Linked DNA regions of Homo sapiens: region 2 is linked to region 1. Evidence: fine-mapped expression QTL. A gene starts in region 1. The other region holds a variant in brackets. All regions are shown on one strand. Distances are from middle to middle. Region 1 holds the start of PHKA2 (phosphorylase kinase regulatory subunit alpha 2). Region 2 has its middle 46 kb from the start of PHKA2-AS1.

Evidence for each region. PIP is the estimated chance that this variant, and not a neighbour inherited with it, causes the effect.
Region 2: its variant is the best candidate, but not a certain one, in a credible set for the expression of PHKA2 in whole blood (TOPMed, PIP 0.71).

What each region holds. Positions count from the first base shown.
Region 1 is chrX:18,982,235-18,987,612 of GRCh38, reverse strand. It overlaps PHKA2 (phosphorylase kinase regulatory subunit alpha 2), which reads left to right and starts at 3,499. Exons shown (of 33, transcript NM_000292.3): 1 at 3,499-3,758. The coding sequence starts at 3,681. It overlaps LOC101928415 (a long non-coding RNA gene), which reads right to left and starts at 26. Exons shown (of 4, transcript XR_001755808.2): 1 at 1-26. RefSeq lists enhancers at 2,665-2,714, 2,696-3,196, 3,197-3,697 and a silencer at 2,815-3,504.
Region 2 is chrX:18,841,977-18,847,354 of GRCh38, reverse strand. No RefSeq gene overlaps it. Among named protein-coding and RNA genes, the nearest start is that of PHKA2-AS1, 46 kb to the left of the region's middle. The variant C/A (reference allele first, on the strand shown) is at 2,700.

The sequences.
Region 1 (5,378 bases):
TTTTTTTTTTTTTTTTTTTGAGACAGAGTCTCGCTCTATCACCCAGGCTGGAGTGCAATGGTGCAATCTTGGCTCACTGCACTCTCCACTTCCTGGGTTCAAGCAATTCTCCTGCCTCAGCCTCTCGAGTAGCTGAGATTACAGGCACCTGCCACCATGCCCAGCTAATTTTTGTATTTTTTGTAGAGATAGGGTTTCACCATATTGGCCAGGCTGGTCTTGAACTCCTGACCTCAAGTGATCCACCAGCCTCAGCCTTCCAAAGTGCTGGGATTACAGGTGTGAGCCACTGCGCCTGGCCAGTATATACTGCTTTCTTTTCATGTTAGTCTCCAGGTACAGCATCAAGAAGTCAGAGCAGGCAAAAATGGAATATATGTTCTTTTAGAATATATTCTTTTAAATATATTTAATAAATATATTCCTCACTGTGAAGAAATCTTATGTTCCCTGGTGTTTCCTCTCTTTATCTCTTAGCCTCAAACGAGCTACAGGAAGCTGGAGCAGAGACAAATTCAACATTCTTTAAAATGTAACGAAAAAATGATTTCCAGTCAACTAAATTATCATAGAAATAACTAAATTTGGTGAATTGGTCATTTTCAGCAAATTCATTCAGAATTGACCTTCTGGGTCAAAGATGGAGTGATTTTCTTTAGAGCCAAAGACCTGAACCCTACAAGAGAAACATTTATTGGTTTCCACCTTGGATGTTAACATGGGGCTCTCTGGAAACTACCTGGGCTGAAGTCTCTGTGGCAGGATGATGGCAGATCCTCTGGCTGGGGTCAGAAAAATCATACATGGTGCTACCCCAGGGTCCAGTTCTGGGTCTTCATTTTTATGGAGATCATGAATCAGCTTCAGAAACAATAACATTCCCTATCATTATACTATATCTGATTCTTGACAAATATTTGAGAAATGACTTGGAGACAAGTTTCTATTGGTGATAACCAGAGAATGGCTTCATGGATATGGGGACCAAGATATGGAGGTTTTGCACCTCAGGGATATGAGGATACTAAAATGTGAGACTGATTTATTATATAGTACAGCTTTCTGGTCCAAAATGAATCACTAAAATTTGCTTTAAAAATTTAAAAGCTAAAACGGAGTAGCCTTCCTTCTTGGTTTTATCCCAGAATTTTGAGCTTATTGAAGAACATAGCTTATATATTGCTATGCAATCGCATAGACCAAAGCCGAAGAATGTAGATTGCCTATACACCAAAAGGGGTGCAAATGTGCACAGCAGAATTAGCGAAGAATGAAGTCAGGAAACTGAAAATGTTTCTATACTAGGTGGAAATGCCAGATAAGGAGCAAAGATCATCAGTTATTTCCCATATGGCTGCAAAATCAACTCCTAAGGAAGGACCCAATGGAAACAAAAGCCACAATGAAAAGAAGCAATGATCCCAGCTTTTAGATGGAGATGAATACATGAAAATTCTAGCAAGAGTACATATTCAGATTCCAAAACATTTAGTGGTGATAACAATGTCTAGTTTTATTCACCCCTAGACCACAGCAAATTCTTCATGGAGGCACATCACATGGATCACTGCATAATTCAAAAGCCAATATTAAGAAAACAAAGTATTATATGAAGTAATATGTGAGCTGATGTGGGGTTTGGTGCTTTAGTTGAGTGACAGAGTAAAGCCATAGATTTATGTTCTGGAATATCTAATATAAACTTGGTTAAGGACCAAACATAAGGGAACGCAGCTAAGCAGGACTGATTTCATTTACTCATGCGAGCAACATTAATTGAGCTCCAACTATATGCTCAACACTGTACCAGGCATAGTAGGAGATACCAAAAGACTGTTTCAATGAATAACGTACATTCCAATTAGGAAAATATGCCTCATCCACACATGAAAACATAAATAACAACAGGAGGCAATACATTGTGGCCAAGTGACAACGAAATTAGCTATGATTTATTAAGTATTTTTCTACTAGCCAGGCTTGTGCTAAATGCTTTATATTCATCCTCTTGATCTTAAGTCATCCTGTGAGGTAGGTGCTATGATTATCTCCATTTTACAGATGAGAACACTTAAGTTCAAACATGTAAAACGGGATGCCAAAGGTCATACGACTTGTAAATGACAGAACTGACATTTGAACTCAAAATGAACTGACTCTAAGTCCTAAGCTCTTACTAAACCAATGGCTACAGAAATTCAGAAAATGGGGAAGGCTAATAGAGGAGCTGAGCTGGCCGTTAAGGGAAAGATAGGCTTCAGTTAGTCAAGGAGGAGGAAGAAGGGCCGAAGGGGTCAAGCATAGAGTAAATGCATGGAGACTGGAAAAGAGCTTGCGGAAATTGATTGCATTAGTCTAGCTGTCCAGTAAATTCCTATGTGGGCCAGATTTTGGTGGACAATGAATACCAGGCCGAAGATTGTGAACTGTAGGTTATCAGCAGCCACGAAACATTATAATGAATGCCAAGTTTCAAGCTGTAGACCCGTGGGAGATGAACTGCGAACCTGCCCGAGGAAGCGGCGCCCAAGTGGCTAGGGGCGGGGTCACAGGCGCCAGAGGTGTCGCTGGGGCACCTCTCCGGGCCTTCCCCCTTTTTCTTCCGGGCTGGGTCCCGCTACTCCAGTTCCGCTAGGCGGCGGAGACGGGGCCAGAGGTGGGACTACAATCTTGGCCCTCAGAGGGGTGCCCAGGCGGCCGCGGTAGGCGGCCCTCTTTCTCCGGCCTCGAGTGGGACTGGCACCCGTCTCGGGGGGCTCCACACTACCACGCAGGAAAGCCAACTCGTCCGCCGCCCGAAGCCGGGTTCCCCTAGACTCCCACGGGCCGCCTCCTTTTTCGTCCCCCCCGAGGCCGCGACTCTGAGGGTTCCGCTCTGCGGCGGAGGTGGGGCCAGGGGCGGGGATGTGGGCGGGGCCGTGAGGTCGTTCCAGGGCGCGGGGCGGGGCCGCCCCCTTACCTGTGCCCCTCAGGGTTCCAAACGTTCCACTCCGCGGCAGGGGCGGGGGCGAGTCCGGAGGGCGGGTCCAAGGCGCCCAGGTGGCCGCGGCAGAAGGGCCTGTTTCTCTGGCCTTGGCTGTGGTTGGCAGCCGGCCGGGGAGAGAAGGGACTCAGGGAGGCAACCTGGTTCCCGCCCGTTGCTGATTTCGCAGCGGCTCTCCCGGGCCGCCCCCTTTTCCTTCCTCCTCAGGCCGCGACTTGGAGGGTTCCGCTCCGCGGCGGGGGCAGAGCCAGGGGCGGGGCTGAGCGCGGCCTGGGCGATCTCCCCGGCGGCTGGGGTGGGCTGGCGTCTTCTTCGCGCCCGGGGGACCTCCTCGCGACCGCCGGGACGTAAAAGGGGCTTGGCAGGGGCGTCCTCGCCCCACTCCCGGAACCTGGTTTCCCGCTGCTCCCGCGAGCGTCGGGAGCCCAGCAGGCCTGGCCGAGGCGGGACCTTCGTCGCTCCAGCCCCCGTCCCCGCCCCCGCGCCTCCCCGCCGCGCGGAGCTCTGGTTGGCTTGCTTTCCAACCGGACTTTGGGGCTAGCGTTTAGAAAAGTCTCGACCTCCTCCGGCCCGGTCCCATCCCAAGAACCGACTAAGGCTGTGAGTGTCCGGGAACCAGACCCGCTTGGAGGCCACAGCCCCGACGTCCCGCGCCCACGCGGCAGATCGGGCGCTGCGGCCTGGGAGCCTCGGGGAGATGCGGAGCAGGAGCAATTCCGGGGTCCGCTTGGACGGGTACGCGCGGCTGGTGCAGCAAACCATCCTGTGTTACCAGGTAAGGAGGGACCGCCCCCAGGGAACGCGTGGAACTACCCTCTCATGTAACTCATTCTCCTTCCCAGGTCTGGCCCTCTTGTGACCTGAGACCTTGCAATTAAGAGTTTGCTATTTGAATCTAGTCCTTGCTAGCCAGTGATTACCACCCCATTGCCACCCCGTGCTCCTTAAGATTCAGGGGACCTAACTGTTGCTACGGCTACTTTTCACAGAATTCTTTGGCCATTGTTCAGGATGAGAATGAGCCGCCTCCGTGCCCGGGTCCAAACTGCCTCTTTTTGCATTGACTCTGCTTTTTTTGGACGAGAAGAGGTGTGGGGGGTTTGGACAGACTACACTGAATGAGAACAGTAGACAGGAGTGAAGAAGCTCCTGAAGTTTACGCAGGACTCTGCAGTGTGGGGCGACAGCTACCGTCCCTCCCATGAGCTGTCTTGGTAGAGACCCACCTGGGAAGCCCTTAGGGGCTACTTTGGTTGCTATTTTACAGATAAGAAAATTGTGAGGCTAGAAAGGTCACTGCATGTAGCAGGTCAGACCCAAAGGCTCCCAAGCTCACAGGGTCCTATGACACTGCCCATGTGGTCCGAGGTATGAATTTGCCTGCTATGCTTTGTATTCCTGGGCTAAAATTATGTGTGGGTCCATCAGTGTAAGACCACTGAACTATTTTTATTCCTAGTGAAGACAGCAGCTATGTTTCTTGCCCTCAATCAACAGCAACTATTTATAGGGCCTTCAAAGTCAACGAAGGAAGTGGCATTCAGGGGTTAGAGGCCTGACCTGCAAGTTGGGAGCCATGGTCATTTCCAAGGCACTGACCATTTTCCCTTCTTAACTAATTTCTTAGCCTTGTTTCCTCACTTAGGAAATATTTGTGGTGTATCTGTTATATGCAAAGCACTCTACAAAGTGCTGGGGTTACAAGAATAAATGATCGTAGTGCAGTAACATTTATGCATAAGGTATAGGTCCAAAGTCCCTTAATCTGTTTTCTTTGTTGTTGTTTGTTTGTTTTTGAGACAGGGTCTCACTCTGTCTCCTAGGCTGGAGTGCAGTGGCGCGATCTCGGCTCACTGAAACCTCTGCCTCTCGGGTTCAAGCGATTATCCTGCCTCAGCCTCCCGAGTAGCTGGGACTACAGGCGTGCGCCACCACACCCAGCTAATTTTTGCATTTTTAGTAGTGACGGGGTTTCACTGCGTTGGCCAGGCTGGTCTCGACCTCCTGACTTCAAGTCATCCTCTCACCACGGCCTCCCAAAAGTGCTGGGATTACAGGCATGAGCCACTGCACCTGGCCTCAGAGTCCATTATCTGAAACCCTTTGGACCAGTTGTGGTTTGCCCATCAGAAATGTTTGGCTTTTAGAAAGGTAATATGCGTACAACGTACTATATATACCATAATAACTGCAGCCAGATCTGGGCAGCACCCCTTCATCAAACAGGTTATTACTTCCACATCAGAATATGAATATTCACATAATTTCAGTAAAGGCTGAAAAGAGTTTCATATTAGTTCGGCTCATCTTTTGCCACCAAAAGAGCTTGCTGCAAACTTACGAAAACACTTTAAATTTTCAGAGCTTACTGGCTTTTGAGATTGCACATGAAGGA
Region 2 (5,378 bases), 140 kb after region 1:
CTTGAGATGCTGTTAATCTGTAACCCTACCCCCAACCCTGTGCTCGCAGAAACATGTGCTGTGTCGACTTAAGGTTTAATGGATTTAGGGCTATGCAGGATGTGCTTTGTTAAACAAATGCTTGAAGGCAGCACGCTTGTTAAAAGTCACCACCACTCCCTACTCTCAAGTACCCAGGGACACAAACACTGCGGAAGGCCGCAGGGACCTCTGCCTAGGAAAGCCAGGTATTGTCCAAGGTTTCTCCCCATGTGATAGTCTGAAATATGGCCTCGTGGGAAGGGAAAGACCTGACCGTCCACCAGCCTGACACCCGTAAAGGGTCTGTGCTGAGAAGGATTAGTAAAAGAGGAAGGCCTCTTTGCAGTTGAGATAAGAGGAAGGCATCTGTCTCCTGCTCGTCCCTGGGCAATGGAATGTCTCGGTGTAAAACCCGATTGTATGTTCCATCTACTGAGACAGGAGAAAACCGCCTTAAGGCTGGAGGTGAGACATGCTGGCGGCAATACCGCTCTTTAATGCACCAGATATGTTTATGTATGTGCACATCAAAGCACAGCACATTTTCTAACTTTGTTTATGACACAGAGACATTTGTTCACATGTTTTCCTGCTGACCCTCTCCCCACTATTACCCTATTGTCCTGCCACATCCCCCTCTCCGAGATGGTAGAGATAATGATCAATAAATACTGAGGGAACTCAGAGACTGGTGCCTGTGCGGGTCCTCCGTATGCTGAGCACCGGTCCCCTGGGCCCACTTTTCTTTCTCTATACTTTGTCTCTGTGTCTCTTTCTTTTCTCAGTCTCTCGCCCCACCCGACGAGAAACGCCCACAGGTGCGGAGGGGCAGGCCACCCCTTCAGGCGTGGTGGCGCATGCCTGTAGTCCCAGCTACTCGGGAGGCTGAGGCAGGAGAATCGCTTGAACTGGGGGGGCGGAGGTTGTGGTGAGCCAAGATCACGCCATTGTACTACAGCCTAGGCAACAAGAGCGAAACTCCATCTCAAAACAAACAAACTAACAACAACAACAAAAAACCCAGCAATCACTTATTTGGACTGTGAAAGGGAAGTATCTTGGGTCCCCAAAATCACTAAGCTAGGAACTGCTTAGGGAAAACGTGCCTCCCATTCTATTCAAAGTCATCCCTCTGCTCACTGAAATAAATGCATATGTGATTGCCTCCTTTGGAAAGGCTGATCAGAAACTCAAAAGAATGCAATCGTTTGTCTCTAGCCTACCTGTGATGTAGAAGCCCCCTCCTCTCTTCGAGTTGTCCCCTTTCTGGACCAAACCAATATTCATCTTACATGTGTTGATCGATGTCTCATGTCTCCCTAAAATGTGTAAAACCAAGCTGTGCTCTGACCACCTTGGGCACATGTCATCAGGACCTCCTGGGGGTGTGTCATGGGCACGTGCCCTCAATCTCGGCAAAATAAACTTTCTAAATTAACTGAGACCTGTCTCAAATTTTGGGGGTTCATAAGACCATAACTTTGTACATCAGCAATTTGGGCTAGCTTCAACTGTGCAGTTCTTCTGGCCTGGATGGGTTCAGGTAATCTCAGCTGAACTCATTCATGCATCTTCAGTTGGCTGGTGGGTTAGCTGGGGCTGGCTACTTTATGATGAATTTAATTGGGATGACTAGGCCTTCCTCCAGAGGCCTGAGTTTGTTTAGTTGGAAGTGGTCCTAAACCATCAAAGGTGATAGTTTCCGTGACAGGGATAATTAATCAATTTATACTGAATATTTGGATTTAAATCTACCATATTACTGTTTGGCTTATCTCTTCTATATTCTTTTTCCCTTTTGACTTCTTTTTAAAATTGTTATTATTCCATCTCTCTATAGATTGGAAATTATATACCTTTACTATTTTTTTAAACCAGTTATTCTAGAGATTACAACATGCATTCTTGACATCACAATCTAATGTTAATTGTTGCTTTGACCGTGTTTTTAGACAATAAAAAGACCTTAGAACCCTTTAACTCCATTTATTCTCTCATCAACTTATGTACTAACTATTGTTATCATTTAGTCTCTGTAATTTTACTCTTATTTTAACTCTTATAAGAGGTTATTATTCATTTAGATTTTACTCACACATTTACCATTTCAATGCTCTTGAGTCCTTCGAGCACTTCTGATCTTCCATATAGGCTCATAGAAGCACATCCAAATAGAGAGAGGTGGTGGGGGTAGGACTTGAGAAGGATCAGTAGTGCCTTGTAAGGCAACTAATTCAGGGGAGGCCATTACAGGTCCTCCAGGCCCCAAAAGGGGAAAAGTACCCTCCTCAGGCAGGGATGGCAGGGCTGCTTCTCCAGGAAAGGAAAATAAGAATCAAAATCTGCTGGTGGGTCCTGGAAACAGTAAACTAGAGGTTCCTCTTCAAAGACTTTCCTCCCCATCTAATTAGGAATAAATAGTAACTTCTCTTAGAAGCAAAATTTATTCAAAGACCTGTGCTAACATTCTTAAATATCTGCTAGCCGTAATAAAGAAATCAATGTACTTTATGTTCTTAGCTTCCACAATTTAGCCTAAATATTTGCCCTGGCATGCTTATACTGGCCCAAGCAAGCATTAGGTCATATCCTGTTCCTCTTCCTTATTTGAAGGTGTTTTTACCTTTCTCAGCATTCCACAAGTTACTTCCTCCTTCCTTTGTTCTCCTCTGCCTTTC[C/A]CTCTTTTAGAAAGTTCTAAGTTGCAGGCCGGGCGTTGTGGCTCGCGCCTGTAATCCCAGCACTTTGGGAGGCTGAGGCGGGCAGATCACAAGGTCAGGAGATTGAGACCATTCTGGCTAACACAGTGAAACCCTGTCTCTACTAAAAATACAAAAAAATTAGCCACGTATGGTGGCATGCGCCTGTAGTCCCAGCTACTCGGGAGGCTGAGGCAGGAGAATCACTTGAACCCAGGAGGCGGAGACTGGGGTAAGCCAAGATTGTGCCACTGCACTCCAGCCTGGGTTACAGAGCGAGACTCCGTCTCAAAAACAAAAAAAAAAACACACACACAAAAAAGTTTAAGTTGCTAGCCAGTCAGGACAAATACAGAATTTGAGGTCCCATTCCAGCCAATGGAAACCAGACACAGCAGTAGGGTGGACACGTCAGGTTAAATGACCCTGTCTCCTCTGTTCGGTGTACTCTTACAGCAAAATTGCTGGCGAGTGTACCCTTTCTGCAGAAAGTGAAAAAATGGCCTTGCTGAGGAAATTAAATTTATGTTCAAGTGCTGGTTGTTTACGGCACCGGGGAACAAGCATTTCTAACCGGTCTCCATTCCAATTTTCAGGCTGCCATTCCTTCCCAATCATTGTCCTTTCAGCAACATACCCTAAGAGGTTGGGAGTTCAATTTGTATTGTCATTCAAGCATTCACAGGATTAGACTTCGGGTTTGGCTTTCAGAAATCTAAGCCTTGTGGCTATAGGAGATAAGAGTTTCTTTCCTGGTAGTTTTAGAAACATTCAGGTCCTTTATGTAGACCTTGAGCTGATCACTTTCTTTACCCAAGTTCTTCAGTAAACAACCAACCAACCAACCCTATTATACTCATCCTTTTGACTAAAATGTTAAAAGTAGCAAATACTTGTTCTCCTAGAGGTTTGCCTTCTATAGGTACTTGATCGCAAGTATCTGAAGGTGATAATTTGAGTAACTATTTTGCCACTTCACACTGTGGAGTACAAGTACCTCTTTAGCACTGGAAACAGGGCTACTCGTACCTTTAAATCAAATCAGAGTAGGGAACCAATTTCAGAAAACCCAGAACCAATTCAGAGCACTTATCTTTAAGATTCTGTTCTTCTGGAACTACTCTCAGTACCAAATTCTGTGTCAGTCTGGGTTCAACCAGAGGCAGAACCAGAAGAAGATACAGATAGGTAGGTAGGCAGATAGGTGATTGATGATTTATAGGTAGATAACCAGTAGAAACCAGATGTGGTCTCCATATCTGATGCTGGAGCTCAAAGTCTACAGGGCAGGTAGTCAGGAAGGAAGATCACGAGCAGGCTAAAACCCACAAGCACAAGCTGGCACCCCACAAAAATGAACTGAAGCCTGTGTCCTTTCTTACCATCTCTGACCTTGGTCATCGAGTTGCCCTGCAGAAGCCAAGGCTTTCGGTCATGGAGCTAAACACATGTACACAGCCCAGAAATCAGAGAAGCTGATAGGATCCAGGGGTAGGTAGAGCAATTGCAGGCCTAGCTACTGTTTCACACCAATGAGGTGAATCTGCAGATCAGCCACAGCATGTGTAAGCTGCAAAATAGCAACTCCTTTCCTTTTACCTCCCAAATCTCCTGGCCCACCCTAACCAGAAACATACAAGAGAGGGAATTCTGAGAAAGGTAGTTCAGCCTAGCCAAACTGACACAATTACAAAGCCATCACTTTCTTTAATGGTTATATGTCTCTTCAGACACTCCTTTTGTTCTTGAGTTATATTTTTCCATAGAAAATAGTCCATGGGGCCGGGCGTGGTGGCTCACGGCAACATTACAATTTAAAGATCTTACTTGGCTTTGTGATTCTAGAATCAGGCAACACTTCATTCCATAAAATTAGAGTAAGTGTTCCAATGAGTTGAGCAGAGGAGGTTGGTATGGACAGAGAAAAGCTGAAGAAAGCAAAGCGGAACCAAAGAGTGAAAGCAGATTGGTCTCCTCCAAGTTACTTTCCTTGTAAGGTAGAAACAGAGAAACAGAACACTAGACAAATAACTGATTGGAATTGATTGGTTAACACCAGGTTACTTCAGATTACATTTTCTTTTCCTTACTTTTTTTTTTCCTGTTTTTTTGTTTGGCGGGGGGACGGAGTTTTGCCCAGGCTGGAGTACAGTGGCATGAACTCAGCTCACTGCAACCTCCGCCTCCTGGGTTCAAGTGATTCTCCTGCCTCAGCCTCCTGAGTAGCTGGGATTACAGTGCCTGCCACCATGCCTGGCTAACTTTGTATTTTTAGTAGAGATGGGGTTTCACCATGTGTTGCCCAGGCTGGTCTCAAACTCCTGACCTCAAGTGATCCACCGGCCTCGGCCTCCCAAAATGCTGGGATTACAGGCATGAGCCACCGTGCCCGGCCAGTTTCAGATTACTTTTTGTTTTAAGGATTAAAGGCAGAGGGAACTTCATTATCACTTGGGTGGAAATTGGCCCATTTGGGAAATGAGGCTGTTTCACTATCCTGATTTTTTGGAAGGCCAGCTAACAACTCATTTTTGGTTTGGTGATGTGGCACTTCAGCATGAGTGACTCCACTTTGATTTTTAGTCTGGTCTGTTTGTTGCTTAGTTGAAAACAATGGCCTCCTCCAGATTTTTGTTTAACACCTTTCTCCTCTTTTGATCA